4 linked regions of the Homo sapiens genome follow. The protein of the gene in region 3 purifies or fractionates together with the protein of the main gene of each other region. This does not show direct contact. Each region holds a gene or a part of one and is shown on either strand. Other genes may lie near its edges.

The links.
Region 1: the proteins of GART (region 3) and DNAJC7 purify together in Homo sapiens (affinity purification with mass spectrometry; 2 studies listed by BioGRID and IntAct, with this or other methods). This does not show direct contact.
Region 2: the proteins of GART (region 3) and PAICS fractionate together in Homo sapiens (co-fractionation; 2 studies listed by BioGRID). This does not show direct contact.
Region 4: the proteins of GART (region 3) and SEPHS1 fractionate together in Homo sapiens (co-fractionation; 2 studies listed by BioGRID). This does not show direct contact.

Annotation. Positions count from the first base shown.
Region 1 is NC_000017.11:42,007,350-42,014,715, reverse strand, and holds part of DNAJC7 (dnaJ homolog subfamily C member 7), read left to right. Parts: intron 1-7,366. UniProt on the Homo sapiens protein: Acts as a co-chaperone regulating the molecular chaperones HSP70 and HSP90 in folding of steroid receptors, such as the glucocorticoid receptor and the progesterone receptor.
Region 2 is NC_000004.12:56,446,044-56,453,409, reverse strand, and holds part of PAICS (bifunctional phosphoribosylaminoimidazole carboxylase/phosphoribosylaminoimidazole succinocarboxamide synthetase), read right to left. Parts: intron 7,054-7,366; coding exon of another isoform or gene 7,033-7,053; intron 6,716-7,032; coding exon 6,537-6,715; intron 4,993-6,536; coding exon 4,813-4,992; intron 4,701-4,812; coding exon 4,587-4,700; intron 2,792-4,586; coding exon 2,708-2,791; intron 1,539-2,707; coding exon 1,358-1,538; intron 1-1,357. UniProt on the Homo sapiens protein: Bifunctional phosphoribosylaminoimidazole carboxylase and phosphoribosylaminoimidazole succinocarboxamide synthetase catalyzing two reactions of the de novo purine biosynthetic pathway.
Region 3 is NC_000021.9:33,532,028-33,539,393, forward strand, and holds part of GART (trifunctional purine biosynthetic protein adenosine-3), read right to left. Parts: intron 7,330-7,366; 5' UTR 7,289-7,329; coding exon 7,144-7,288; intron 3,294-7,143; coding exon 3,198-3,293; intron 2,727-3,197; coding exon 2,552-2,726; intron 430-2,551; coding exon 318-429; intron 1-317. UniProt on the Homo sapiens protein: Trifunctional enzyme that catalyzes three distinct reactions as part of the 'de novo' inosine monophosphate biosynthetic pathway.
Region 4 is NC_000010.11:13,331,256-13,338,621, forward strand, and holds part of SEPHS1 (selenide, water dikinase 1), read right to left. Parts: intron 5,096-7,366; coding exon 4,988-5,095; intron 2,717-4,987; coding exon 2,562-2,716; intron 1-2,561. UniProt on the Homo sapiens protein: Synthesizes selenophosphate from selenide and ATP.

The sequences.
Region 1 (7,366 bases), on a different chromosome or scaffold from region 3:
GGTGATGCTGTAATCCCAGCTAGTCAGGAGGCTGAGGCAGAGGTTGTGGTGAGGGGAGATCATGCCATTGCACTCCAGCCTGGGCAACAAGAGCAAAACTCCGTCTCAAAAAAAAAAAAATCAATTAAAAAAAGAAAAAAATGCATTCTTATCAGACTTTTATGTTTCTCATATATAGCACTGTTTTCGACAGACTTAAACATAGTTATTTATTATATACCACTTTTTTGCACAAATCAAAAGGAAAATTGGCTGGGTGCAGTGGCTCACACTTGTAATCCCATCATTTTGGGAGGCTGAGGTGGGCGGATCACGAGGTCAGGAGTTTGAGACCAGCCTGGCCAACATGGTGAAACCCCATCTCTACTAAAAATAGAAAAAATAGCTGGGCGTAGTGGTGGGCACCTGTAATCCCAGCTACTCGGGAGTCTGAGGCAGGAGAGTCGCTTGAACCCGGGAGGCGGAGGTTGCAGTGAGCCAAGGTCACACCATTGCACTCCAGCCTGGGCGACATGGTGAGACTCCATTTCAAAAAAAAAAAAGGAAAATAAGTGAAATAAACAAAAAAATCAGTTTAACTTTTTGCCATATCAGACATCCTTAGAAGAATAAACATTGGCCGGGCGCGGTGGCTTATGCCTATAATCCCAGCACTTTGGGAGGCTAAAGCAGGCTGATCACCTGAGGTCGGGAGTTTGAGACCAGCCTGACCAACATGGAGAAACCCCATCTCTACTAAAAATAGAAAAAAAAAATTAGCCAGGCATGGCGGTGCATGCCTGTAGCCCCACCGACTTGGAGGCTGAGGCAGGAGAATCACTTGAATCCGGTAGGCGGAGGTTGCGGTGAGCCGAGATCGTGCCATTGCACTCCAACCTGGGCGACAAGAGTGAAACTCTGTCTCAAAAAAAAGAATAAACATTAGGCTCTGTTAGTATGAAAAAGCCTTGTTTATGTATGATTTTTCCAGTGCTGAAAATGGGATGGAGATTTAGAAGCTTTGGAGGGAGGTGGTTTTATGTTTTTCATGTGTCCTGGATTCCTCTTGTGTGGCCATAGCAGAGGGCAGTGATAGGGGCATCCCTTACAAATGCCCTTTTACTGTCTGGCTTGGTTAGAGTTCTTTGGCCAAGTTCCTGCCTCTGTTGTTATGGTCCTCCTACCAGTTCATTTAGGGATCAAGAGTTAATGAGTCTCTCGGGTCGTTTTTGTGAGGTCCAGCTTTGTAAGGAGTCCTTCCTTCCTTACGTCTTGGCTTAAGACATGTCCTGCTGCTGCTAAGTTGTCACAGTCCCATAGGGGGGCAAAATGAGAGGAGCTTTTAAGACGGACTTCACGATTGCAGCATTTTAAATGGCTACATGTTTTATTTCCTTAGCTTTAGTGTTTCTGTAGAGAAAAGAGATGGATTTCAATTTTTTTGCATGTCACTCTGACAAAGTTCTGTTTCCCTTACAGCAGCCAAGAAACTAAAATAAGGCTAGGCTTAGTGGCTCATGCCTGTAATCTTAGCACTTTGTGAGGCCAAAATGAGAGGATCGCTTAAGCCCAGTAGTTTGAGACCAGCCTGGGCAACATAGTGAGACTTAGTCTCTATAAAAACATTTAAGGCTGGGTGCGGTGGCTCACGCCTGTAATTCCAGCACCTTGGGAGGCTGAGGCCAGTGGATTGCTTGAGGCCAGGAGTTCGAGACCAACCTGGGCAACGTGGTGAAACCCGCCCCCCATCTCTGTAAAAAAAAAATACAAAAATTAGCAGGGTGTGATGGTGCATACCTGTAGGCCCTGCTACTTGGGACGCTGAGGTGTAAGTATCACCTGAGCTGGGGGAGGTCGAGGCTGCAGTGAGCTGCGATCACACCACTGCACTGCATCCTGGGTGACAGAGTGAAACCCTGTCTCAAAAAAAAGGGTTGGGGCTAAAATAAAAGATATATTAGTTGGCACTCCAAAACAGATCAGGATTCTATGCATGAAGATTATTTCTCTTTGCTCACCAAAACAGGCAAAGCTATTTATGAGCCAGAGGGTTAAACTTCAGATGTTTCACATTTCAACTAACTTAAGGCTTTATATTTTCCTGGGAAGTTGCTGACTGCTTTACCTAATATGGGAATACCTGTCTTGAATTAAGGATCTCTTGTTATATCTCCTGGGCTGGGAAACAGCTTGATCTCTATAGGGAGTCTTTCTTATGGTAAACTTGAGGGATTTCAAATTGTTTTCTTTTCTTTTTGACGGAGTCTCGCTCTGTCACCAGGCTGGAGTGCAGTGGTGTGATCTCAGCTCACTGCAAACTCCGCCTCCTGGGTTCAAATGATTCTCCTGCCTCAGCCTCCCGAGTAGCTGGGACTATAGGCGTGTGCCACCACACCCAGCTAATTTTTGTATTTTTAATAGAGACGGAGTTTTACCATGTTGGCCAGGATGGTCTCGATCTCTTAACCTCATGATCCGCCCGCCTTGTCCTCCCAAAGTGCTGGGATTACAGGCGTGGGCCACTACACCCAACCTCAAATTGTTTTTCAAAGAGAAAACACTTACGTGTCTCAGCATATACCTAGTGTGACTGGACAACAAGATCTAAAAGAATCAAGGGATCCATAGACTTAAGAGTCAGGACATCCTTACCTGATTCCTTGAGCTGATAAACTTAACTTCTCTGTATGTTTTCCTGATGGGCACAAATAAGAGCAATTCTTATTAGGCCCTTACTACCTAGGTATTGTACACTCTTTGCGATTAGGATTTTGCCTTTTATTTCTCTATTCAGATTGTTAATGGGAACAACTGAACTCTCAATTCATGTCCCGGGTTTCCTGTAGTTGCTGTTCGTTTGCTGCAGCTTTGCATGGTGTTTTTGAGTTTGTGGCCTCACTTAACTGAAGAGCTTGTGGGCATGCCTCCCCAGCTTTCTTCCTTACCTGGTTTTAAATTCTTAGGAATGTGTCCTTCTAATCTTCCTCTTGAAGTTTCAGAGCAAGCACCTAGACATTTCAGTAAGCCTCCAAACTGAGTGGGAATTTATCTTTGACCTGGAACCCAAATCAGTGAGAAACACTATTTTCCTTTTGCTGTGCACTAAGTGTAGTCAGATGTGAAGAAATGGGAGATGGGAGGAGAAATAAGTTAAGGAAGGGATAAACCTAGGAATACAGAATTCTCAATACCGGCAAATTAATTGAACCCTGATACTAACAGATGGCAAAGTAGATAATCATAACTGGAGCAAAGGTAGAGTACAGAGAAAGGTTCTCTCTTAGTGCTTTAGTTCAGATCCACATGTTAACTAGTGCCAGAGAAACAAGAATTTTGAGAAAATATAGGGCCAAGTGAGTGGCAGTTGCTTAGAGTCCAGTCCACTCCCAACAAACAGAACTCTGATTGGCCGAAAGCCCAGCCTTATTGTACATTCCAGCCAATCAGGGATTAGTTTAGTCATTGAAGTTTGTATTTTAATGGTTTTGAAAAGCTGAGTACTGGGCACTTGCTTTTTTGTTCTTCGGGACTTTAGAAGTTTGGAGAACAATAGTCAGCAGTTGCCTAGTTGCTTTGTGGCCTGATGCAGAGTCCCTCTGAGAGCCCATTTCTCCCTTACTGCACTAGTCTTTGGTCCCCTTTCTCCAGCACTGAGTGATGTGGAAGTTACTCAGAGGTCTTTCCAGGTATTCTTTTAAACTTTTGAAGTAAGAACAAAATTCAAAGTGCAGTTATCCTAACAGGCTATTCATTTTATTGGAGTGACACTGTTTTTCCTTCTCCCATTCGGATCAAAATGGCAATTCCTATGTTTTACCCTCACCATGGGTAAGAATATGAGTGGTTGAGGCTTTTGAGAATGGTAATAGGAGGAATATATGACTCTCAGGTCTTATTCTGAGACGTGAAATTCTATTGGCATGTGACTTACAATTTGTGTGGGGAGGCCAGATTGTCAGATAAGCAGTGTTAACCATCTCTCTTGATTCTAATATTACTTTTGGAGAGAGTGTGAGGGGCAAGCAGGACCCTCTCTTGTTTTTGGAGTTTCTGTCCTGAGAGTTCTTCCTTGGACAGTTTGCCCTGAGACAGTTAACCACCTGTTGAACTAAGGAACCAAGACAACTTTGAGAAGTGAAATACCGTTGACAATCCAGGCTCCTCCCCACTCTAGTTCCCATCTCCACCCCACCCCACTCCACCCAAAAAAACTCAGGAAGCAGCCTTTATATATATATATTTTTGAGACAGAGTTTCATTCTTGTTGCCCAGGCTGGAGTGCAATGGCGCAATCTTGGCTCACTGCAGCCTCCGCCTCCCGGGTTCAAGCAATTCTCCTGAGTCAGCTTCCTGAGTAGCTGGAATTACAGGCATGCGCCACCACGCCCGGCTAATTTTGTATTTTTTTTTTTTTTTGTAGAGACAGGGTTTCTCCATGTTGGTCAGTCTGGTCTCGAACTCCCGACCTCAGGTGATCCACCCGCCTTGGCCTCCCAAAGTGCTGGGATTATAGGCGTGAGCCACTGCACCCGGCCTAGGAAGTAGCCTCTTTCTTTCTCTCTTTCTGTCTGTCTCTTTCTTTCTTTCTTTCTTTGTGATGGAGTCTTGCTGTGTCTCCAGGCTGGAGTGTGCAATGGCACGATCTCGGCTCACTGCAATCTCCGCTTCCTGGGTTCAAGCTATCCTCCTGCCTCAGCCTCCTGAGTAGCTGGGACTACAGTTGCATGCCACCATGCCCAGCTAATTTTTTATATTTTTAGTAGAGACGGGTTTCACCATGTTGGCCAGGATGGTCTTGATCTCATCACCTCAGGATCTGCCCGCCTCGGCCTCCCAAGTGCTGGGATTACAGGCGTGAGCCACTGCGCCAGGGCAAAGCAGCCTTTTCCTTAATTGTAGTTCCTCAGTTTTAAATTTTTGATGGGTGCTGGTGTCCCTATAGTGGGAGATGTCACAGAATAGGGAACCGAGGGATGGAAAATGGTGGGTTTGGGGATATGTTATGAAAACAAGCCTCTGGCTAATGCTGAAAAGCCAGTGACTTGTATCCTCAGAATGGTTTCAGAGAAGCATGTTTCCCAGAAGTAGCTTCATTGTTGGGTCTCCTCTCCCCAGGGATAAGTGAAGGTTAGGTAGATGTAATAGATTGTGACACCTCTCATTTAAGGACCTAAAATAAATTTCCAACTCACCGTTGAGACAAGTATTTCCAAGTGAATATGTTTCTGCCTGCAGTGATGGGATTTCTGTAGGGATTGAATTGGTTGCTTGCTTTTTCTTCCTTACTGAATAAGGCATAGCCAGCTGCATAGCCAGGCACAGCTTGCTGGCTGGTGTCCGTCCCTGCCTGAACAGTAGGGAGTGCTGCTGCTTTGTGTAGACAGTCTGTGACTCCTCTGGTGCATTTTGGGTCCCTTCTGACTCTGCCCGTGTTGAGGCTTCTCCTTGAATGTCCACCCAGAGGACAATTTGAACTGGTATGTTAAGGAATTTTCTTCATCTTCTGCCTTCTCTTTATTAGCGGAGATGTGTGGAGGGTTGTTCCATTTGTGCTTTAAAGTGAAAACTATCTATTCTGTAGGAAATTGGGTAAAGAAAGCTGAGTAGCAGATAGCTTTGCTAAAAGGTAGCAGTTGGATAGCGCTCACCTTCTATTTTTTTCTGGATGAAGCACCGAGCATAAATACCTTGCCATATTTATAGAATTATTCCAAGTCATATATCTATGGCCCGGCGTGATGGCTCACGCCTTTAATCCCAACACTTTGGAAGGCAGAGATTGGCGGATCACTTGAGGTCAGAAGTTTGAAGACCAGCCTGGCCAACATGGCAAGACCTCATCTCTACTAAAATAAACAAAGATTAGCCAGGCATGGTAGTGGGGCCCTGTAATCTCAGCTACTCAGGAGGCTGAGGCAGGAGAATCACTTGAACCTGGGAGGCAGAGGTTGCTGTGAACTGAGATCACACCACTGCACTCCAGCCTGGGCAACAAGAGTGAGAGTCTGTCTCAAAAAATATATGTCTGACCCGGCGCGGTGGCTCACGCCTGTAATCCCAGCACTTTGGGAGGCCGAGGCGGGCGGATCATGAGGTCAGGAGATTGAGACCATCCTGGCTAACACGGTGAAACCCCGTCTCTACTAAAAATACAAAAAAATTAGCTGGGCGTGGTGGCAGGCGCCTGTAGTCACAGCTACTTGGGAGGCTGAGGCAGGAGAATGGCGTGAACCTAGGAGGCGGAGCTTGCAATGAGCCGAGATGGCGCCACTGCACTCCAACCTGGGTGACAGAGCGAGACTCCGTCTCAAAAAAAAAAATCTATATCTATATATATATATCTATACCTGTGACTTCCACTTATCTATGTGAAACTTATATTGACATTTCACTTGTAGAATAGTAGATTTTTTTTTTTTTCTTTTTTGAGACGGAGTCTCACTCTTGCCCAGGCTGGAGTGCAATGGCACAGTCTCGGCTCACTGCAACCTCCGCCTCCTGGGTTCAAATAATTCTCCCGCCTCAGCCTCCCGAATAGGTGGGATTACAGGCACCCTCCATCATGCCCGGCTAATTTTTGTATTTTTGTAGAGATGGGGTTTCACCATGTTGCCTAGGCTGGTCTTGAACTTCTGACCTCAGGTGATCCACCCTCCTTGGCCTCCCAAAGTGCTGGGATTATAGACATGAGCCACCTTGCCCAGCCTAGATTTTTTTTTAAAAAAGAAACTTCTTACCGGGCACATGCCTGTAATCCCAGCTACTTGGGAGGCTGAGACAGGAGAATCAGTTGAACCTGGGAGGCGGAGGTTGCGGTGAGCTGAGATCACGCCATTGCACTCCAGCCTGGGCAACAAGAGCGAAATTCTGTCTCAAAAAAAAAAAAAAAAAAAAAAAAGGCAGTTTTTTCTGGCCAATTGTGGTGGCTCATCATGTGTGTAATCTTAGCACTTTGGGAGGCTGAGGAGGTGGATTGCCTGAGCTCAAGAGTTTGAGACCAGCCTGGGCAACATAGTGAAACCCCATCTCTACTAAAATACAAAAATTTAGCTGGGCATGGTGGTGCGTGCCTGTAGTCCCAGCTACCAGGGAGGCTGAGGCACAAGAATCGCTTGAACCTGGGAGGTGAAGATTGCAGTGAGCCGAGATCTCACCACTGCACTCTGGCCTGGGCAATAGAATGAGACTGTCTCCAAAAAAAAAGAAATTTTTTTCTTAAAGAAGAATCTAAATGATATGCTTTTGGTAAGATGGAATAGAAGTTAGGCTCCTGGGCTCCTTTTACTTTATTTTGTCATGAAGGTCAGGGAGAGTGCAACATGAAACAGGCCCTGTGACATGCCATTGGGGACAAGAGGTCTCGGACTGTGGGAAGGAGGAAAGAATT
Region 2 (7,366 bases), on a different chromosome or scaffold from region 3:
TAAGTCAAGTAATAAAGTAGCTGGAATCGGTTTGGTTGTTTTTGAGATCTACATTATAAAGGGGATAGCAGGGTGTCAGTGAGGGAATAGCTCATAGGCCTCTTCTATTGCTGTATAGGCTGGCCAAAGTGAAGAATGACACCATCTGAACAGGTGTCTTTCTTGACTGGGTGGTCCCTCAACTGGTGCAGGGAGAACCAGTTAATATAAACTAGGGGTTTAGGGACACGTCTTCAAACAAGAGTTGAAGGAAAGTTTAATTAATATAGTGTCCCCCAAATTTTAAGGCCCTTTGATACATTTTTTAACATAATCTCTTAAGCAATTCATTCTTTGATAAATTTATAAATTATCCTCCTGTTTCCTAAAGCAGAGATTTGTTAACCTAGAATCCAAAATTGTATGTATTTGCAATTTTCTGAAAAGAGTTCTAGAATTCATTAGCTATCAAAGGAGTCTGAGTTCCCCCAACCTCCCACTCCCCCAAAATTAGTAACTACACTTCCATAGCAACAACCTGTACACGAAATAATCAACATTTTTTTCCAGTTGAGAAACATTTGGTTGTAAACCCAGGGCTCCATTATTTTAGATCACTGCTATACCATTATTTTTTATGTACTATATTCTGAAACTGTTCTTTAATTTCCTATCTGACTGCCTCCCAGGAAAGGGTGGCAACTAAAGATTCCCGGGAGAACCGGCTATTTTAACCTCCCGCCTCCTGTAACTGTGGGGGCCTATTTTCTATTGGAGTATATTAGAAGCAATGCTCCAGGGGCTTCTTACCAGGTAAGGATGCCAGAGGTTCTCATCATTCTAGTCTTTGTTTTCTTTTCATACTTGCATTTTTAATTATTTCTCCCTGCTCCTTTCTTTTCTAAGCTTCTAGAATACCTTAAGCTCTTTGGAGGTGAGTATTAAGAAAGCCTAGCGGCCAGGCGTGGTGGCTCATGCCTGTAATCCCAGCACTTTGGGAGGCCAAGGCAGGCGGATCATGAGATCAGGTCAAGACCATCCTGGCTAACACAGTGAAACCCCGTCTCTATTAAAAATACAAAAAATTAGCCGGGCATGGTGGTGGGCGCCTGTAGTCCCAGCTACTTGGGAGGCTGAGGCAGGAGAATGGTGTGAACCCGGGAGGTGGAGCTTGCAGTGAGCTGAGATGGCGCCACTGTACTCCAGCCTGGGCGACAGAGTGAGACTCCATCTCAAAAAAAAAGAAAGCCTAGTATATCATGTGTTTTTCCCTTAGAAAACTGACAAAGCTCTTTTTTCAGCATTATTAGTCTAAAGTGTGTAATTACTTTTAGCAAAATCAGAAATACCTGAAATGTCCATATTACTTGTGGTTTACCTTCATACTCAGCTTTAATCCTCAGAGTTTCATCTGGTCCTTTATGCGCAGATGTTACTCGAAGTTCACATGGAATGCCAAAATTTCCACAGGCCTTCTTGATTTTTTCACAGTGACCAAGATCAGAAGTAGAGCCCATCAACACTACAACCCTGCACTGACTTTCTGATTTCAAAAGCAACTGAAGAAAAAATACGTGGATATGAAAAGAACATAAAAACAAAAATGAATAAATGAGCTAGAGTTTGTAGTAAAATTATATCTGGGCCCAATATTTTCTTTCTTAACAGATCAAATTTAAGACAGAGACAAACAACAAAAAGACAGGATTTATTTTTAAAAATCTCAATATATAAAGGAAAGTGGTCTTCATCAAGACCTAAAGAATTCAATTTTTATCAGACAAATTATTTAAAATAAACAGTAAAGATACTCAAAATCTTTTAATTTTCAGGAAATTATAATACAAAATATTTCATCCTAAGACCTTTAGTGCACTTTGTTTAATGGAAGCTTTAAGGTATGATTAGCCAAATCAGAAGTCATGTTCTAAGTCTTTGTAAGTTAATTGCTTGTAACTCAAAATATATATTCCTATAAGAATAATGTTCTCAAATGTGATTATGACCCTTGCATAATCACAAACCCCATTCAACTCCCAGAATTATAGTAATACCATAAAACTTAAAGGAATATTTAAAGTCACACAGAGTTCCATCCATCCCATGCTAATGGAACTCTGACTAGCAGTGCAGGTGAGTAGGAAATATAAGGTTTCTCCTACGGGGTAGGGAGGAGACAGATTCCAGGTTTCCCCAACAGGATCTGGGAGGTATGTATTGGCCAGCTTAACAGCACGGAGTTCCAGTATCCTAGTAAGGATAGCCCAGCTGATACATTTCCTAAAAGTGTTCCTCACTTTCAAAGTCACTGAAGAGCTGGGCGTGGTGGCTCACGCCTGTAATCCCGGCACTTTGGGAGGCCGAGGCAGGGGGATCACGAGGTCAGGAGATCAAGACCATCCTGGCTAACACGGTGAAACCCCGTCTCTACTAAAAATACAAAAAATTAGCTGGGCGTGGTGGCCAGCGCCTGTAGTCCCAGCTACTCGGGAGGCTGAGCTAGGAGAATGGCGTGAACCCGGGAGGCGGAGCTTGCAGTGAGCTGAGATGGCGCCACTGCACTCCAGCCTGGGCGACAGAGCAAGACTCCGTCTCAAAAAAAACAACAACAAAAAACAAAGTCACTGAAAAGAAAAGCACTATACTCTCCCATTTTTTTTTCTTTTGAAACAAGATTTTCTTAGAAGAAAAACACATAATACATACAGTTTTACTATAGAAGGTTTACCTCTACTCTCTCTGCAACCCACTCAAAGTTTTTCTTTACCATTTGGAGCCCTTCAGGAGTTACTTCTTTGAGGTCCCGATAAGACTAGAAAATAAGATAGAAAGTTTAGAAAACAAGTATCTCTTGCTACCTGAAACTATTTGGTTTCTGAGTTTTGGGGAGGGATTATGAAGAGTTTGTATAGCAAGGGATACTTCTGAAAATGCATCTTTTCACTTCCTGAATTAAACTAACAAAGTTCCATAGTAAAGTATACTTTTATTTTCACTTAAGGTTAAGTGTTTTCTGTACTAGCAACTACAATTAACTGCCTTGAGAATTTTTATATATTAAGTATAGAAAGGGTCTTGCTCTAATTTTGTTTTCTGTTATTTTTTATTTTAAATACATGTGCAGAATGTGCAGGTTTGTTACATAGGTATACATGTGCCATGGTAGTTTGCTGCACCCATCAACCTGTCATCTAGGTTTTAAGCCCCATATGCATTAGGTATTTCTCCTAATGCTCTCCCTCCCCTTGCTCCCCACCCTGCAACAGGCCCCGGTGTGTGTTGTTCCCCTCCCTGTGTCCATGTGTTTTCAGTGTTCAACTCCCACTTATGAGTGAGAACATGTGGTGTTTGGTTTTCCGTTCCTGTGTTAGTTTGCTGAGGATGATGGCTTCTAGCTGAATCCATTTCCCTGCAAAGGACATGATCTCATTCTTTTTCTTTCTTTTTTTTTTTTTGGAGACAGAGTCTCGCTCTGTCAACCAGGTTGGAGTGCAGTGGCACAATCTCGGCTCACTGCAACCTCCACCTCCCGGGTTCAAACAATTCTCTGCCTCAGCCTTCCGAGAAGCTGGGATTACAGGTGCCCACCACCATGCCTGGCTAATTTTTTTTTTTTTTTTTTTTTGAGACAAGGTTTCACTATCTTGGCCTGGTCTTGAACTCCTGACCTTGTCATCCACCTGCCTTGGCCTCCCAAAGTGCTGGGATTATAGGTGTGAGCCACCGCGCCTGGCCAATCTCATTCTTTTTTATGGCTGCATAGTATTCCATGGTGTGTGTATATCACATTTTCTTTATCCAGTCTAACACTGATGGGCATTTGGGTTGGTTCCATGTCTTTGCTATTGTAAATAGTGCTGCTCCTGTGCACGTGTCTTTACAGTAGAATGATTTATATTCCTTTGGGTATATACCCAGTAATGGGATTGCTGGGTCAAATGGTATTTCTGGTTCTAGATCCTTGAGGAATCACCACACTGTCTTCCACAATGGCTGAACTAATTTGCATTCCCACCAACAGTGTAAAAGCGTTCCTATTTCTTCATAGCCTCTCCAGCATCTGTTGTTTCCTGACTTTTTTAAAACAGCCATTCTGACTGGTGTGAGATGGTATCTCATTGTGGTTTAGGTTTGCATTTCTCTAATGATCAGTGATGATGAGCTTTTTTTCATGTTTGTTGGCTGCATAAATGTCTTCTTTTGAGAAGTGTCTGTTGTTTTATATAGGAGCAGAAATGTGGCCTGGTAACATGCAGGAGACTTGGAATAGAGTCCCAGATCTGTCCCTGACTCTAGTAATTGTGAAGATACCCATCCTCTTAAGACCCTTAGTTTTCATTTAGCCAAACAAAGATAATACTTGCTGTTACTGTTGTGACAATGTTATTAAGATAACAGATGAGAAATTTGCTTTATAAATGTAAAGTATTATTCCTATTATTCTTCTATTAGGATACCAGAGACATTTATCTTTAAAAATAAACAGCAATCCACAAAACAGGTTCATATCATTAGGAACAATAATTTGCTTTTTCCCCTCATCTCTCCTTTCTCCTCTATCTCAGCTTGATCTCAAAAAGGATAAAAAAACCTGAAGCATTATCTACCTGTTTGTCTTTCTGTTGGCTTCGATCTCCTGATGGCCAGAGTCTCCAGGAATCATTGTCAATAACATCAGCAAGAACAATTTCTTTGGTGGTTACATCAACACCAAATTCAATCTGGAAACAGCATGTCAACAAAGTTTTCAAAAACTATTTTATGAAAGCATCTCTCAACTATAACCTTTACTTTCAAATCCTGTTGTTTTATCTGTACTTGTTTTATCTGTACCTTCATATCAACCAGTGTACAATTCTGGGGCAACCAGGATTTCTCCAGTATTTCAAATATAGCCTGTGTAGCATGACTCATGATATCCACTTCAGTCTGGCCTATAAGAAGTCCAGCAAAGCAAAATTTTGCAGCAATCAGCTGTTCCTCAGACCACTGTGGGTCATTATTGGCATCATCCTGTGAATAAAGTATAGTAGTACAATTAACTTCAATCTAAAATTTTTAAACTTTTCAGAAAAACCAACATCCTTTTCACCTTGAGCATGAACTCCTTAGAAATTTTTAGCCACAGCCGGGCATGGTGGCTCATGCCTGTAATCCCAGCACTTTAGGGGGCTGAGGTGGGCGGATCACAAGATCAGGAGTTCGAGACCAGCCTGGCCAACACAGTGAAACCCTGTCTACTAAAATTACAAAAAATTAGCTGGGTGTGGTGGTGTGCACCTGTAATCCCAGCTACTTGGGAGGCTGAGGCAGGAGAATCATTTAAACCCGGGAGGTGGAGGTTGCAGTGAGCTGAGAGAGCGCCACTGCACTCTAGCCTAAGCAACAGAGGGAGACTCCATCTCAAAAAAAAAAAAAAAAAAGAAAAGAAATTTTGATCCAGGTGCAGTGGCTCACACTGTAGTCCCAGTAATTTAGGAGGCTGAAGCAGGAGGATCGCTTGAGCCTAGGAGTTCAAGAGCAGCCTGGGCAACAAAATGAGACATCTAAAGAAATTTTTTGTTTACGATACTCCTTAATTCAAAGCAATTATTACTCCTCTTTTTTTTCCTAGTTAGCTCCTGCAAGCAGAAAAAACTATTACTCTTAATTTGTTTACTCTCAATAGCACTTTAAAATTCAAAGTATTTAGGTGAGTAACTTATTCTAGGTCACAAAGTATTTCAAAGAATTTAACCTCTATAAACCAATTTAAACAGAATTTAAGTTTGTGATTTTTGTTTTTCCTTAATAACAGTCATCAGACATGACAGGAAGGCCAAAGCACATTTTAATCAATCAAATCTTTCCAAAACCACCGTTCTCATAACCTCCCAACCTCACTTTTTATTAGAATTTATACAGCACTATAATTTTTTAGGGACATTATTTGATAATTCAAGAGACCTCAGACAAAGAGGTAAGTGAAAAAAATGAAATAATTTCATTTTATTCTCAGCAGTGTCCCAACTTTACATGACAATATCTTTATAAATTCTTGATCTATATAATCATAATACACACAAGTTACATAACTCATTGATTAAAAAGCAAGACTGATATTGCTTCCCAAGCAGATCTATGCTTAACAGCATAAATCAAGATGGTTAAAAGCAGTAAAGCCTACAAAATTCATAACCACTGATTCTTACAACCTTTATTTATATATTTTCACTTACAAGAGACATTGTTAGTATAGTTTTCCTGTATTAGAATATAAAAAGATTTCAACTAAATTTTAAAAAAATTAACTAAATGTTACTTTTCTCTTCTTCCTGTTAGTCATCTTGGTTCAAAGGTAAGATTTTCAGATGCTTTCTTTTTAAAATTTGATTTATCATTGTTAATGGAAGTGTACATTATTGACATTGGCAACTAGATAAGACAAATTTTGGAATGACATTTGCAATATCAAAATATCAAAAACTTTGCTTGAATATTTAAACCTTTAGAGTTTCTAATTATAAATTTATTGCCGTGTTACAGTAAGACATAAAACAGAGGCATAAGATAATTACCTTGAAAAACAACTCCACTTTAGGTGGGTAAAACTTATATCCTTCCTTGACACCAGGATTTCTTTTGAGAAAAGAACCAGTTGCTATTCTTCTGCAAACCCATTCAATTGGAATCATTTCACACTGCGGTGCAATGAAAGCTGTCTCCCCACATTTTCTGGTGAAGGCAGTTTTAATACCTACATATTGATAACCAAAGTTAAAAAAGGTATTGAAATGATATGTAAAAAGGTAGATCTGAGGCACAATAAAACTCTACCCTTTACAAGCAACAAAGAACCTCTATCAAAAATAAGTGTAATTTTTCTCTTTATTTAATGTAGATGCGGTCAGTTGTTGACTCAAACAGTAAGCAGCACATGACTATACATACAATGTATTGTTCAGCCATAAAAAGGAACGAAATTCCTGATACATCCATGCTATATAATATGGATGAAGCTTAAAAACACTAGGCTAAATGAAAAACACAAAATGCAAAAGAACAAATACTTACGATTTGACTTATATGAGGTAACTAGAATAGGCAAATTCAGACAGAAAAGAGAATGGAAGTTACCAAGGGCTGAGGAGTGGGAGGAATAGTTATTGTTTAATGCTACACAGTTTGTTTGGGATGATGAAAAAGTTCTGGAAATGGATAATGGGATGAATGTACAACATTGTGAATGCACATAATGCCACTGAATTGGACACTTAAAAATGGTCAAACTGGTAAATTTTATGTATTTATCACAATTTTCTTTTAAAAAATATCAGGAGCCTATTTTATGGCAGATATTGTTCCAACCATTTTAAATACATCTTTTTTGTTTAATCCTCATAACATT
Region 3 (7,366 bases):
GTGGGACAAATACTTTTGTCCTCATGGATGGCTTGATAATTTATTTATATGTTCTAGAGTCTGAGGATTTTCTTTCAGTGGCAGACAACAAAGGATGTTACAATTTACTTCAAAATAATACAATCATGGTTTAATTTACAGTGTAAATCCATAACTATTTTATAGAGATGGATTATAATACATGGGATTATAAAAAATAACTTACCCATATGTTTGCAAAATAGATTTTCCTTATTGTGAGGAACATTTTTTAAACTTAAAACGGTATTTATTCAGTATGAATAGAAAAGTAAATTTTTTCAGAAGACCCAGCCTACCTGCATGATCTCTTGTACAGCTTTGCAGGCCTCTTCTTTGCTCTTTGCAACAATCACCCCTTTTCCAGCTGCAAGACCACTGGCCTTCACAACCAAAGCAGGGAAGTCTGCACTGTAAAGACAGAGTAATCGTCAACATCCAATAAACCATTACAACTCAAGATTTTAAAATGCTGTGGGATTTTGTAACGATATGCTATAGCAATGACTGAAAAGCAGAAAGAAAAAAATTAATTATCATTCCAACACATTTTGATGTACTTCCCACCAGGATTTTTTCCCCTACGTATTCCTTTGTAGTTCCAATCATACAGTACCTACAATTTTGCTTTTTTCATTTATCATGAGATTACATAGGCAATATCTTTGGAAGAATAAGTAGATGTATAGAGTAGATATGGCATAATCTCTAAGATACAAAGTAGCAAATAGTACTCTCATTCAGGTAGAAAATGCGGCTGTATAACAACAGTAAGCATACACAGACCATTTCTGGGAGTACACATATGAAATTATCAAGTGGGCCTGGGGGTCTGGAAGGAGACTTACCCAAAGTAAGTAACAAAACTGTTACTTGCTCAAGGCATCTGGCTGCTAGGAAATAATAATATTCAGTGTTTAAGAAACTCTTTAGGATATGAATGAAAAAAAAATGAAACTGACACAACTGAAAGGAAAACATAACCAGGAAGCAGAAGTGCCAACAAAAAAAGGGCAAATGCATGTGTCTACTAACACTCATTAATTGCTCAATGCTTTCCACATAATAGAGAACAAAGGATGTTTAATTTTGAAATTTAAAATTGCAATAGTGGCCAGGCGCGGTGGCTCACGCCTGTAATCCCAGCACTTTGGGAGGCCGAGGCGGGCGGATCACGAGGTCAGGAGATCGAGACCATCCTGGCTAACACAGTGAAACCCCGTCTCTTCTAAAAATACAAAAAATTAGCCTGGAGTGGTGGTGGGCGCCTGTATTCCCAGCTACTCGGGAGGCTGAAGCAGCAGAATGGCATGAACCTGGGAGGCGGAGCTTGCAGTGAGCCGAGATAGAGATAGCGCCACTGCAGTCCGGCCTGGGTGAAAGAACGAGACTCAAAAAAAAAAAAATAAATAAATAAATAAAAATAAAAATAAATAAATAAATAAATAAAATAAAATGGCAATAGTGGTGGCAGATGACCAAGTGATGATTACTCACTCTGGTTAATTATTTATGACAAAAAAAATCAATGTTCTTTATGTTGTAAGATGCCACTGCGTTTGTCAATCTGACCGTGAGGCCTAGTGTTACGGCTCATGCCTGTAATCCCAGCACTTTGGGAGGCAGAGAGAGGCGGATCTCTTGAGCTTAAGAGTTTGAGACCGGCCTGGGAAACATGGTAAAACTCCGTCTCTACAAAAAATATAAAAACTAGCTGGGAGTAGTGGTGTGTGCCTATTGTCCCAGCTACTTGGGAGGCTGAGGTGGGAGGATCACTTGAGTCCAGGAAGCAGAGGCTGCTGTGAGCCAAGATCACGCCACTGCACTCCAGCCTGGGTGACAGAGAGAGGCCCCGTCTCAGGTTGGGGGGTGGTGGTGGGGGGCGGGGAACCAAAAACCAAAAACATGGCTGTGAAGAGCGCACAACTGCAGAACCAAGTGTATTTTTCCCCTGAGGAACTACTCAGATTTTATTAAAAATGTCATCTTCCTGCAAGGCCACAAGATCATATAAACTCTGTATGCATAGGATCCCATTTTATTTTGGTTCTGGAAAACGACAACCCACATAATATTTATTGAGAAAGTTTTTTCCTTAATTATCTTACTACATCTTGAGACAGCCTAAAGACCTAGCATTACATTTTCAACACAGAAGTGACCTGTATATTTATTTAATTTTTTTGAGACAGGGTCTCACTCTGTCACCCAGGCTGCAGTGCAGTGGCACAATCTTGGCTCAGTGCAGCCTCCGCCTCCTGGGTTCAAGTGATCCTCCCACCTTGGCCTTTAGAGGAGCTGGGACTACAGGTGCACACCATCATGCCCGGCTTTTTTTTTTCTGTATTTTTTGTAGAGACAGGGTTTTACCATGGTACCCAGGCTGGTCTCTAACTCCTGAGCTCAAGTGATTCACCTGCCTTGGCCTCCCAAAGTGCTGGGATTACAGGTGAGCTACTGTGCCTGGCCACTGACCTGTGTATTTAAATATCAAAACTAAACAACTGTCCTTCACAGACAACCATTTACCTACCTCAAAATGAAGCTGCAGGCTTCTTCAGGTTTGGTGAAAGCCTTCCATTGTGCGGTTGGGATTCCATGTCTGTCCATAAACTCTTTGGCAAACCTTTTGCTGGACTCTAACTGAGCCGCTTCTGCTGTTGGGCCAAAGCATTGCACTCCTGCAGACCTCAGGTTCCCAACAATCCCTATTGATGAAAACAGTAGCCTTAGGTGAACCAAGGTCTCCCCAGGGGCTTTTCAGCCTGAAGACGAATTAGTATCAGACTATATCTACATCTAGACAAGGCAGATGACTGGTGGCAGAGGATAACTAACTTTTTCATGTTGTCTACTGGATAGAGATAAAATGCTATTAACATGTTATTCAAATCTATCAAAAGTTGTTATATTTGCATATATGGATTATTAAACACACACCAGAATACAGCAGAATAAAGACATATAAAATGTTTTCCATGGCTGCAAATTTGATCTCTAACTCATCATATAACTGATGCTTGGGAAAAAAAATCTAGACTCCATAAATTTCGAGAGTGGAAGCTCTTTTTCCAAGATAATATTACAAATTCTCATCTGTAAAATGAATTGGATTAGATGATCCCTAAGCTTCTGTTTGCACTGAATATACTGTAACAATAAACAGAAACAAACTTTACCAGCAGCCAGAGGTGCTTCTGGTCCAACAACTACAAATTCAATTTTCTTCTCTTTGCAGAATTGAGCAAGGGCAGTGTGGTCACTGATTGAGATGGCTGTAAACAGAAAAAAAAAAAAAAAAACCACTGCATTTACAAAAACATTCCACTTAAGTAAACTAAGTGTCTCACTAAAAAAACTAAGTTCTATACTTTAGTATGCTTGTTATCTGTTGGTTTTCTTATATTGGCAGAGATGACAGTTTCAACATGTGAAATTCAGAGGAGAGTGCATTAGGCTAACCAACAGAGCTCAGTTCTCCGTTATCATTGTAGACAGATGAAAACACCAATAAACTTCCCAAAGAGCCATAAAGTATCACCTCCATGATATTGTTCACGTCACTAATATTGACTGTATATTAAACAAAAAACGTAAGATATACTCAGAAATTGGTCTTTTAATGTCAATCAATCAATTGTACTGAAAATCCACTATGTGCTAAGTACTGTCCTCAGCACTGGTATTAAGATGTCAACACGGCGGGGCGCGGTGGCTCACGCCTGTAATCCCAGCACTTTGGGAGGCCGAGGTGGGTGGATCACCTAAGGTCAGGAGTTCGAGACCAGCCTGAACAATATGATGAAACCCCGTCTCTACTAAAAATACAAAAAGTAGCTGGGTGTGGGGGCATGCACCTGTAATCCCAACTACTCAGGAGGCTGAGACAGGAGAATCGCTTGAACTGGGGAGGCGGAGGTTGCAGTGAGCCAAGATCGCACCACTGCACTCCAGCCTGGGTAGATAACAAGAACGAAACTCTGTCTCAAAAAAAAAAAAATTTATCAACACAAGCAGGGTCCCTATACTTAACATGTTTACAATACGCTGTAGGAACGCTGGGTAATAAACATACAAACAAAAAAACAGCAAATATGAACAAATTAAGCAAATTTGATATGAAGTGAATTGAGAGGCTATTTTGGGTTGGGTCAGGAGGGATCTCTTTGGGGCAGAGCTGTTTAAGTTAAGAACTCAATGACGCTTTTAAGAGGAACCTGTCTTCTCCAACCTGCAAGTCAGGTAAATTTTCTTCTGTGGAGTTCTAAGTAACTAGTGGTAGGATCAACCACATACTGAACATGGTTTGGCTCCATAGGGGCTCTCCTGCTTCACTGTGCCTGGACCACCATTCGTTAAGTCAGCTGAAGTGTGCAATCACTCTGCCATTGGTACAGAGTACAAGAAGTGATATTTGTGATGTACAGTTGTCCCTCTTTATCCTTAGAGGACACATTCTAAGATCCCTAGTGGATGCCTGAAACCACAGTGCTGAACGCTATATATATAGTATGTTTTTTCCTATACATAAACACCTATGATAAAGTTTAATTTACAAATTAGGCACAGTAAGAGATTAACTATCACTAATACTAAAATAGAACAATTATAACTATATGCCAGCATCAGCTTTGGGGCCATTATTAAGTAAAACAGGGTTACCTGAACACATGCACTGAGATAATATGATAGTCAATCTGATAACCAACAGGGCTAGTAAGTAACAACATGGATATGCTGGACAAAAAGATTCACGTCTCAGGTTGGACGGCACAAAATTTCATCATGCTATGCTAGACTGGTGTGCAATGTAAAATTTATGAATTATTTCTGAAATTTTCCATTTAATATTTTGGACTACAGCTGACTGTGGGTAACTGAAACTGTGGAAAGTAAAATTGTGGATAGGCTGGTGACTACTGTATAGGGTCCAAGTCCAGAAAAGGTAGGGTCCTCAATCTGCAGCAACTGCCTGAATGTGATTAGGATGGAGTACCACGCACTGTGGGTTAGTGGTTCTGAACACAACTAGGCTGAGCAGCGTCAACTATATCAGTATAGCAGAGGGCAACAAGAGGAAGAGGTCTCTTTAGTAGTCTTACAAGACTACTTGTAGTAGTCTCATGATGATCTTAAGAGATTTTGATGGGCTTGCCTGTATGACCTCAATCGCAGATAAACTGTCCTAGTTCTCTAATAAACAAATATCTCACCCGTAGAATTAAGATCCCAGAAAAGGAGGTATTTGCTAATTTGTATTATTCCTTTTGGTCTTATATACATGCCACTATCTTCTCCCAGTTTGTGGCTTGTTGGGTCCATGCTCTTCTTTCCATAAATATTATGTGCCACATAGGGAACTAAGCACTGTGCACACCATGCAAAACAAGACAGACAAGTTCCTTGCCCTCATGGAGCTTACATTCTACTAGAGATTATATTCTAGTGGAGGAAAAGAACATAGAAGACAGACAATAGTGAAGTAAAAATAAACACAGACATTCATGATCATAAACAAATGAAATGGGGATGGACACTTGCTTTTAGTAAGAAACTGTAGGAGAGATATAATTAAGGAGGCTAACATTTAAGTGGAGCTCTGAATAATGAGGAGACAGTCATAGTAAGGGGTGGGAACAAATATAAAGTCCAAAGCAGCAAGCTTCTGCTTGGGAAATTGGTAGGACAGCATGGATAGGGTATAGTGAAAAGAGAAAAAGGGATATAAAAGATCAGGCTGGAAGAGCAGGCAGAAGACAGACTGCACAAAGGGCTTTGAAAGGCATGGTAAGGAATTTGAGTTTTATTCTGAGTATTATTAGAATACTGAGGAGTTTCTGAAGCCACTGACAAGCTTAATGTAGTATATGAACTGACCATTTTTTCATTTTTGCCAATTGAGAGATAAGGGTGGAGGCTGGGCACGGTGGCTCATGCCTGTAATCCCAGCACTTTGGGAGGCTGAGGCGGGCAGATCACCTGAGGTCAGGAGTTTGAGACCAGCCTGACCAACATAGTGAAACCCGGTCTCTACTAAAAAAACAAAAAATTAGCTGGGTGTGGCGGCATGCACCTGTAGTACCAGCTACTCGGGAGGCTGAGGCAGAAGAATCGCTTTAACTCAGGAGCCAGAGGTTGCAGTGAGCTGAGATCACGCTACTGCACTCCAGTATGGGTGAGAGTGAGACTCTGTCTCAAAAAAAAAAAAAAAAAAAAAGTCAGAGAGAGATAAGGGTTGAGATCTATTAGAGTAACAACTGTTAAAAACTTTGTTTTGTGAGACAGGTTCTCATCTTACTCTGTTGCCCAAGTAGCTGGCACTACAGATGTGCACCACCATGCCTGGCTAATTTTTGTATTTTTTTTTTGTAGAGATCGGGTCTCACTACATTGCCCTGGCTAGTCTCAAACTGCTGGGCTCAAGAGATCCTTCTGCCTTGGCTTCCCAAAGTGCTGGGATTGTAAGCGTGAGCCACTGCACGTGGCCGCAAGTTGTATTTAATAGCAATACTAAACTTTCCATTTACAAAAATACACAACAAAATGCCTTTAATCTGTATTAGGCACTTACTACTTTTCCAATGGATGTGTTTTATCAGGTTTAAAACAGTTTAAGATAAGGAAATGCCATATTCTGAACAATAGGTTACCTTAAGTTTATAACATATTGGCAAGCATTCAAATTACCAAATAAATTTTAAGGTCAAGGAAAGCACTCAACCCTGAATAGTAGTCTATATTTTATTTTATTTTGAGATGGAGTCTCATTCTGTCGCCCAGGCTGGAGTGCAGTGGCATGATGTCAGCTTACTACAAGCTCCACCCCCTGGGTTCAAGCCATTCTCCTGCCTCAGCCTCCCGAGTAGCTGGGACTACAGGCACCCGCCACCACGCCCGGCTAATTTTTTGTATTTTTAGTAAAGACGGGGTTTCACCATGTTAGCCAGGATGGTCTCCATCTCCTGACCTCATGATCCGCATATCTCGGCCTCCCAAAGTGCTGGGATTACAGGCATTAGCCACTGTGCCCAGCCTATCTTTATTAACATAAAGTACAGATATGGTTGACAGCATACCATTAATAACAAATAATAACTATTACTCCCCACTTTAAAACATGATTACCGGTATTTGAAATCTTTTCAGAGCAGGCAGTGCCTGCGTTTCCTGGGGCAACCAACACTTGTTTGACATGATGAGACTGTGCAAGTTTCCAGGCCAGCGTATGTTCCCTTCCTCCACTGCCAATTATAAGTACTCGGGCTGCCATTGTTCTGTCTGTAAAGCAGAAATTCCAAAGGAAAATGAAACCTGCAGAAAGAAAACCACAGTTTATATCTTAGGATGC
Region 4 (7,366 bases), on a different chromosome or scaffold from region 3:
CCAAGTCTTAGCTATTGTGAATAGTGCTGCAATAAACATATGTGTGCATGCGTCTTTACAGCAGCATGATTTATAATCCTTTGGGTATATACCCAGTAATGGGATTGCTGGGTCAAATGGTATTTCTAATTCTAGATCTTTTTTTTTTGAAACTGAGTTTCACTCTGTCACCCAGGCTGGAGTACAGTGGCACGATCTTGGCTCACTGCAACCTCCGCCTCCTGGGTTCAAACCACTCTCCTCAGTCTCCTGAGTAGCTGGGATTACAGGCGCCTGCCATCGTGCCCGGCTAATTTTTTGTATTTTTAGTAGAGACAGGGTTTCACCATGTTGGCCAGGGTGGTCTTGAACTCCTGACCTCAGATGATCCACCCGTCTTGGCTTCCCAAAGTGCTGGGATTACAGGCATGAGCCACCACGCCCGGCCAAAAGACTGACTTTTCTTAACAAGACATCAAACATGGAAAGTGACAACTTGGTTAGGAGAGAAACTTCTCCAAAGAAGATACACAAATGGGTAGTAAGCACATGAAAAGATGCTCGGCCTCATCAGTCATCAGGCAGACACAAATCAAAACCACAAAGACATTCCACTTCACACCCAGTAGGCTGGCTAGAATCCAAAAGACAGACAGGAAAACAAGTACTGGAGGGGTCATAGAGAAATTGGAATCCTCATACATTGCTGCTGGGAACGTAAAATGGCGCAGCCATGTTGGAGACCAGTCTGATGATTCCTCAAGTTAAACATAATTACCACATGACCCAGTCAATTCTTAGGTATACACCCAAGAGACCGGAACTTATGTCCACACAAAAACTTAGAATGTTCATGGCAGCATCATTCCTAATAGGTGGAAACAACCCAAAGGTCCGTCACCTGAGGAATGGCTAAATAAAGCAGGGTCCATCCATGCAATGGATTATACAGCCATGGAAAGGAATGCGATACCGATTCATGCTACAACACGGATGGACCCGGAAAACATTCCGCTATGGGAGTGAAGCCAGACACAGCATGTCATGCTGCACGATTCCATTTCTATACAATGTCCAGAACAGGCAAATCCTTAGAGACAAAAGCACATTCTTGGTTGCCAGAGGATGGGAGCAGGAGGGAAATGGGAGTGAGCTACAGGGCTTCTTTTTGGGGTGATGAAAACATTCTGGAATTGGATAGTGGTGATGGGTGCACAACCTTGTCAATACTAAAAACCAACACATTGTGTACTTCAAAATGCTGAATTCTATGTTATGTGAAATTTTGTTACGTGAATTATACTTCAACTAAAAAACCTAAAATGTCAGCCGGGCGCGGTGGCTCACGCCTGTAATCCCAGCACTTTGGGAGGCTGAGGCGGTCGGATCATGAGATCAGGAGATCGAGACCATCCTGCCTAACATGGTGAAACCCCATCTCTACTAAAAATACAAAAAATTAGCCGGGCATGGTGGCAGGTGCCTGTAGTCCCAGCTACTCGGGAAGCTGAGGCAGGAGAATGGCATGAACCCGGGAGATGGAGCTTGCAGTGAGCCGAGATCATACCACTGCACTCCAGCCTGGGCGACGGAGTAAGACTCCGTCTCAAAAAAAAAAAACAAAAACACCTAAAATGTCTTAAAAATAGGATTAAAATACTGACACATGCTACAAAATAGATGACCCTTAAAAGTATGCTAATACTATGCTAAGTGACAAAATCCAGGATGGAGCAGGAGTGAACAGTGAGAGCCGAGGAGGATGGGGTTTCTTCCTGTAGCAATGAAAACATCCTAACATCAACTCCGGTAATGGCTGTACAACTCTGAGTATACTCCAAACCACTGACTCTTTAAATGGGTGAATGGTATAGTACGCAAATTATATCTTAATACATCTATTTTTTTTTTTTTTTGAGATGGAGTTTCGCTCTTGTTGCCCAGGCTGGAGTGCAGTGGCGCGATCTTGGCTCACTGCAGCCGCAGCCTCCTGGGTTCAAGTGATTCTCCTGCCTCAGCCTCCCAAGTAGCTGGGATTACAGGCATGTACCATCATGCCTGGCTAATTGTGTATTTTTAGTAGAGATGGGGTTTCTCCATGTTGGTCAGGCTGGTCTCAAACTCCCAACCTCAGGTGATCCACCCGCCTTGGCCTCCAAAAGCGCTGGGATTACAGGCATGAGCAACCGCGCCCAGCCTTGCGTTCTTGTCTTTTTTTTTTTTGGAGACAGAATCTTGTTCTGTTGCCCAGGCTAGAGTGCAGGGGCATGATCTCAGCTCACTGCAACCTCCACCCCTGGGGTTCAAGCGATTCTCCTGCCTCAGCCTCCAGAGTAGCTGAAACTACAGGCTTGCCCCACCATGCCTGGCTAATTTTTGTATTTTTAGTAGAGACAGGGTTTCGCCACATTGGCCAGGCTGGTCTCAAACTCCTGACCTCAGGTGATCTGCCCGCCTCGGCCTACCAAAGTCTGGGATCATATGTGTGAGCCACTGCACCTGACCTTAATACATCAATTTTTAAAAAGAGAGGACAGAGAGAGAAAAACAGGTCAGGTGATATGAAACAAAAATCAACTTACATGATAAATTCATTGGGTTGGCAGACAGTGGTAGCCACTCCTCCCAGGACAATCCAGGGGTTTAGTACTGTTTGGCCGCCTGTTACAGATGTTCCTGCTTCCTCAGCTGCGTCTTTAAAACCTTGGATAATCAGAGGCATCACTTTATCCCTTTCCTAAGGTTGAAAAAGGTACAAATAAAAAGTCAAAGAATTCTGTTCAAAACCCAGAAAAGAAGGTTTTTACACTTACAGTTATAAAAAGAACCATAAAATCCTAAAGGAAGTCCTCAAAGTTTACAGACAGGGAAGGTTGTTAGGGGCCAGGCATAATCGCTCACGCCTGTAATCCCAGCACTTTGGGAGTCCGAGGTGGGCAGAGAGCTTGAGCCCAGGAGTTTAAGACCAGTCTGGGCAATGCAGACAGACCCCTTTCTCTACGAAACATGTAAAAATTGCTGGGTGACCGGGCACAGTGGCTCATGCCTGTATTCCCAGCACTTTGGGAGGCTGAGGCGGGCAGATCACCTGAGGTCAGGAGTTTGAGACCAGCCTGGCCAACATGGTGAAACCCCGTCTCTACTAAAAATACAAAAATTAGCCGGGTGTGGTAGCATGCGCCTGTAATCCCAGCTACTTGGGAGGCTGAGGCAGGAGAATCGCTTGAACCTGGGAGGCAGAGGTTGTAGTTAGCCAAGATCGCATCACTGCACTCCAGCCCTGGGCACAAGAGTGAGACTTCATCTCAAAAACAAAAAAAAAAAATATTGCTTGGTGTGGTGGCATGTGCCTGTGGTCCCAGCTATTCCGGAGGCTGAAGTGGGAGGATGTCTTGAGCCCGGGAGGCTGAGGCTGCTGCAGTGAGCTCTCATCACACCACTGCACTCCAACCTGGGCAACACAGGGAGATCTTGTCTCAAAAACAAACAAAAACAAAAGCTAGAAAATATTTCACATTGTCATCATTTTATCCAATGCTGGAAGATGTTCTAGACAACAATGTAAATAAAGCCCAGACACCAACATTGTCTGGACTCAGTGCACAGGACCAGCCCTAGGTCTGATGACTGCTGGAAGCCAGCTGTCCAGTGCTCCTTGAGAATCTCAAGACTGGCTTCCTAAGCACAGGTCCCCTGCCCTGCAGTAGGCATCCATCCTACCAAGGCTTGGCTGCAGGCTACGAGTAACCCACACTGACAGAGCCTGCGCCAAGACCACCATGCACCACTGATGACTACAGCCCATGTTCAAGGGCAGGAAAGAGCCTACTGGAAACTCAAGTTTCTCTAAGGCAGGGCAAACTGTTGGGGGCTCTTGGGACAAAAACAAGTACCTGTCTATCTAAATAGGAATTCATCTCTGGTTCAAAGAACAGGTTCAGGCAGCAAGGGCACAGAATGCTAGGCGATGACACAGAGGCGTGAGCCCCTGGTGGCCCTATCCCCCGTCACCATCTACGTCCACGACATCCCCAGCCACAGCAGAGGGAGTGCCCTCTAAGTGCCACGTGTCCCACATCTGTAAGGCTGTGCCTGATTCACACTGAGGCACCATTACTATGGCCAAAACTTTATTTTAAAAAATGCACAGGTCGGGCACGGTGGCTCATGCCTATAATCCCAGCACTTTGGGAGGCCGAAGTGGGTGGATCACGAGCTCAGGAGTTCGAGACCAGCCTGACCAACATGGTGAAACCCCATCTCTACTGAAAATATAAAAATTAGCTGGGGGTGCTGGTGTGCCCCTGTAATCCCAGCTACTTGGGAGGCTGAGGCAGGAGAATCGCTTGAACCTGGGAGGTGGAGGTTGCAGTGAGCTGAGCTTGTGCCACTACACTCTAGCCTGGGTGACAGAGTGAGACTCTGTCTCAATAAAACAAAAAAAAATATACACAAATGCCTTGGGCCGGGCACGGTGTTTCACGCCTGCAATCCCAGCACTTTGGGATGCCGAGATAGGTGGATTACCTGAGGTCAGGAGTTCAGGAACAGCCTGGCCAACGTGATAAAACCCCGTCTCTAATAAAAATACACAAAATAGCCAGGTGTGGTGGTACGTGCCTGTAATCCCAGCTACTTGGGAGGCTGAGGCAGGAGAATTGTTTGAACCCGGGAGGCGGAGGTTGCAGTGGACTGAGATTGCGCCACTACACTCCAGCCTGGGCGACAGAGTGAGACTCCTGTCTCAAAAAAAAAAAAAAAAAAAGTCTTGGTTTCAGTCTACTGGGAAGAGAGAAAGGGAGCAGGTGGCAGAAGTGCAGAGATGACTAGGCCAGGCTTCCTCATTTTAATTTACTGGTAACTGCCAAAAAGTGGAGAGCCAGAAGGAGTGCAGGGAGCCATATGGCCTGGGCTCCTCGCTTTCTAGATGGGAAACCAAGTCTAACCAAGGCCAGAGATGCCACCGGGACAACACGGACCAGGCAGCAGCCGGGTAGCTCCTACTTACCCTGTCGGTCATTTTATTACTGACTCCAAGGAGCATCAGCATATTGTCACATTCCGTGACCCCCATTGCATAGAGGTCACTGAGGACATTGGCACACGCTATCCTGCCCTGGGAAGAGAGGGAAACATGAGAAAGGACGACCGGGGACTTTCCATCTGCAGAAACTGAGTGAGCCATGGAGTGGACTCCACAGAGAACGTGGAGACTTTCCAGGAGTAGCAGCTACTAGGATGGGGTCCTCAGTTTCTATGATTTGCAGACTGGCAACCTTTCCTGCATCACAGAGTCACTAGGCCATTCGTTTTTTCTCAGACATTCCTGTTACCACCTCTTTCTTGTGCAGGACAAAGAATGTACCAGTTTTTCTCCATTCTAAATTTTAGAAGTCTGCAATTTATTTAGATAGGGGAAGGGGTATATGTGCAGCGAATGAGGAGGAGAAGCAAGTTTAGAACCGACAGTCTTGGGGGAAGAGCTATGGAGCGAAAAAGCCTGCAAACAACTCTCCTAAAGAAAAGTTGGAAACAGCCACATATCCCAAACAGATTCTAAAAATGGCTGGCTTTAGTGGTTATAGAGATGGAGATAGTCTTTGTGCACTTGGATTAAGAAATGTTTGCAGCTTAGGCTGGGTGTGATAGCTCACGCCTGTAATCCCAGCAATTTGAGAGGCCGAATCAGGTGGATCACTTGAGGCCAGGAGTTAAAGACCAGCCTGGCCAACATGGTAAAATGCTGTTTCTACTAAAAATATAAAAATTAGCTGGGCATGGTGGTGCACACCTGTAGTCTCAGCTACTTGGGAGCCTGAGGCATGAGAATTGCTTGAACCTGGGAGGTGGAGGTTGCAGTAAGCTGAGATCGTGCCACTGCACTCTAGCCTGGGCAACAGAGCAAGACTGTCAATAAACAACAACAAAAAAAAAACAAAAAAAATTTTTGTAGCTTCTTTTCAAGGATGTATGAGATAAACAGAAAAATCATCTTAAGAAACAAATAAAAAAATACCCAGGGCTGAAGTCATATTGTTTTCAAAAGAAAAAGAAGCATTTCCCAGTAAATGATGTCATTTTATTAGGAACTTTAAAATACAATTCAACAGAAATGTGGTAATGAAGATTTTTTTATTGCCACTGGAGATTTTTAAAAGTTAAGTTGCCCTTATCTAAATTTTTATCTTTTATAGACAATAAAGAGAAAATACAAATTTTCCTTCTGACATAAGGATAATCAAACTCCCAAGTGTTATCACTTCCAGTGGCTGTTTAATTGCTTGCTTTAGGCTTTCTTATACATTCCTGGAGGTCAGCAATGCAGCTCAACAACCATCTGTGGCCACACTTTCAGTATCATCAAGCCAGTCCACAAGGCCAACAGGTGGTCTACAACTCGCACAAGCCAATCGCTAGTTAGGGGGGTGGTGATTTAGCGCCCCTTCTGTTCTGGGTGCTCTCATTTTAGGAGATGCTGGAAAACAATGGACTGTGGTTTTAGCCATCCCTGCCACCTGGTCATGTGGGACCTGGGCTGTGGCTTACCTGCCCAGTCTCAAGAGTATTGCTCCAGAGGAGAAAACGGACAGATGTGCGGAAGAAATATAGGTTTCCAATAATCTGGTATTTGTCACTGGTACCTGAGGGTGAACACCCCCCACGTGGCTGCCTCATGATAAAGTCCCTACAGTGCAGCCTGATCCCACTGTCCTTGCCACACACGAAGAACACCTGGCATTTTATAGCAAACCAGATTTTCCTAGTCTCTCCACTGGCTCCTCCTGGGTGGTAGCAAATTGGGGTTAAAGGTTGGGTGGATCAAAGGGTGGCTGGCTGCAACTACGCAGTAAACAACTGGGGAACACACCTCAGCAGTGTATCATCAGTAGCCAGGAACTTTAACTCAGTGGTCAGAAACCTACTATGTACAGCGGCACATCACACGGTGGTGGGTGTGCAAGTGGCTGGGTTGAGTGAATTAACCAGATATCCGAATTAATGTTTGAGGCATCTAATTGTGATGAGATACTAGCTCCTTAATCTCTTGAAGGAAACATTTAGGATCAGTCCTATTACAGAGGACAGTAACATCTCCAGCCTAAAACACAGGGGTGATGGAGGTTACCAATGTCAAAGAAGAGAAGGTGCAAGAAAGAAGAAAATGACAAAAACAGGCCATTGACATGCTACTAAACAAGAGGTGTTCTTACTCACAGCATGTACTCAGTTGCAACAGCAGCAGAGGGCCTTCCCTGCTTCCTCCCTAATTGCTTTATGCCCAGTGCCAAGTGTGGGCAGGGGACAGGCCTGACTTCAGCAACTGCAGGAGTCTGGGCAGGGTGGGGCAGTATAGTCGGGATATAACAGAAATAAAACCAAAACCCCA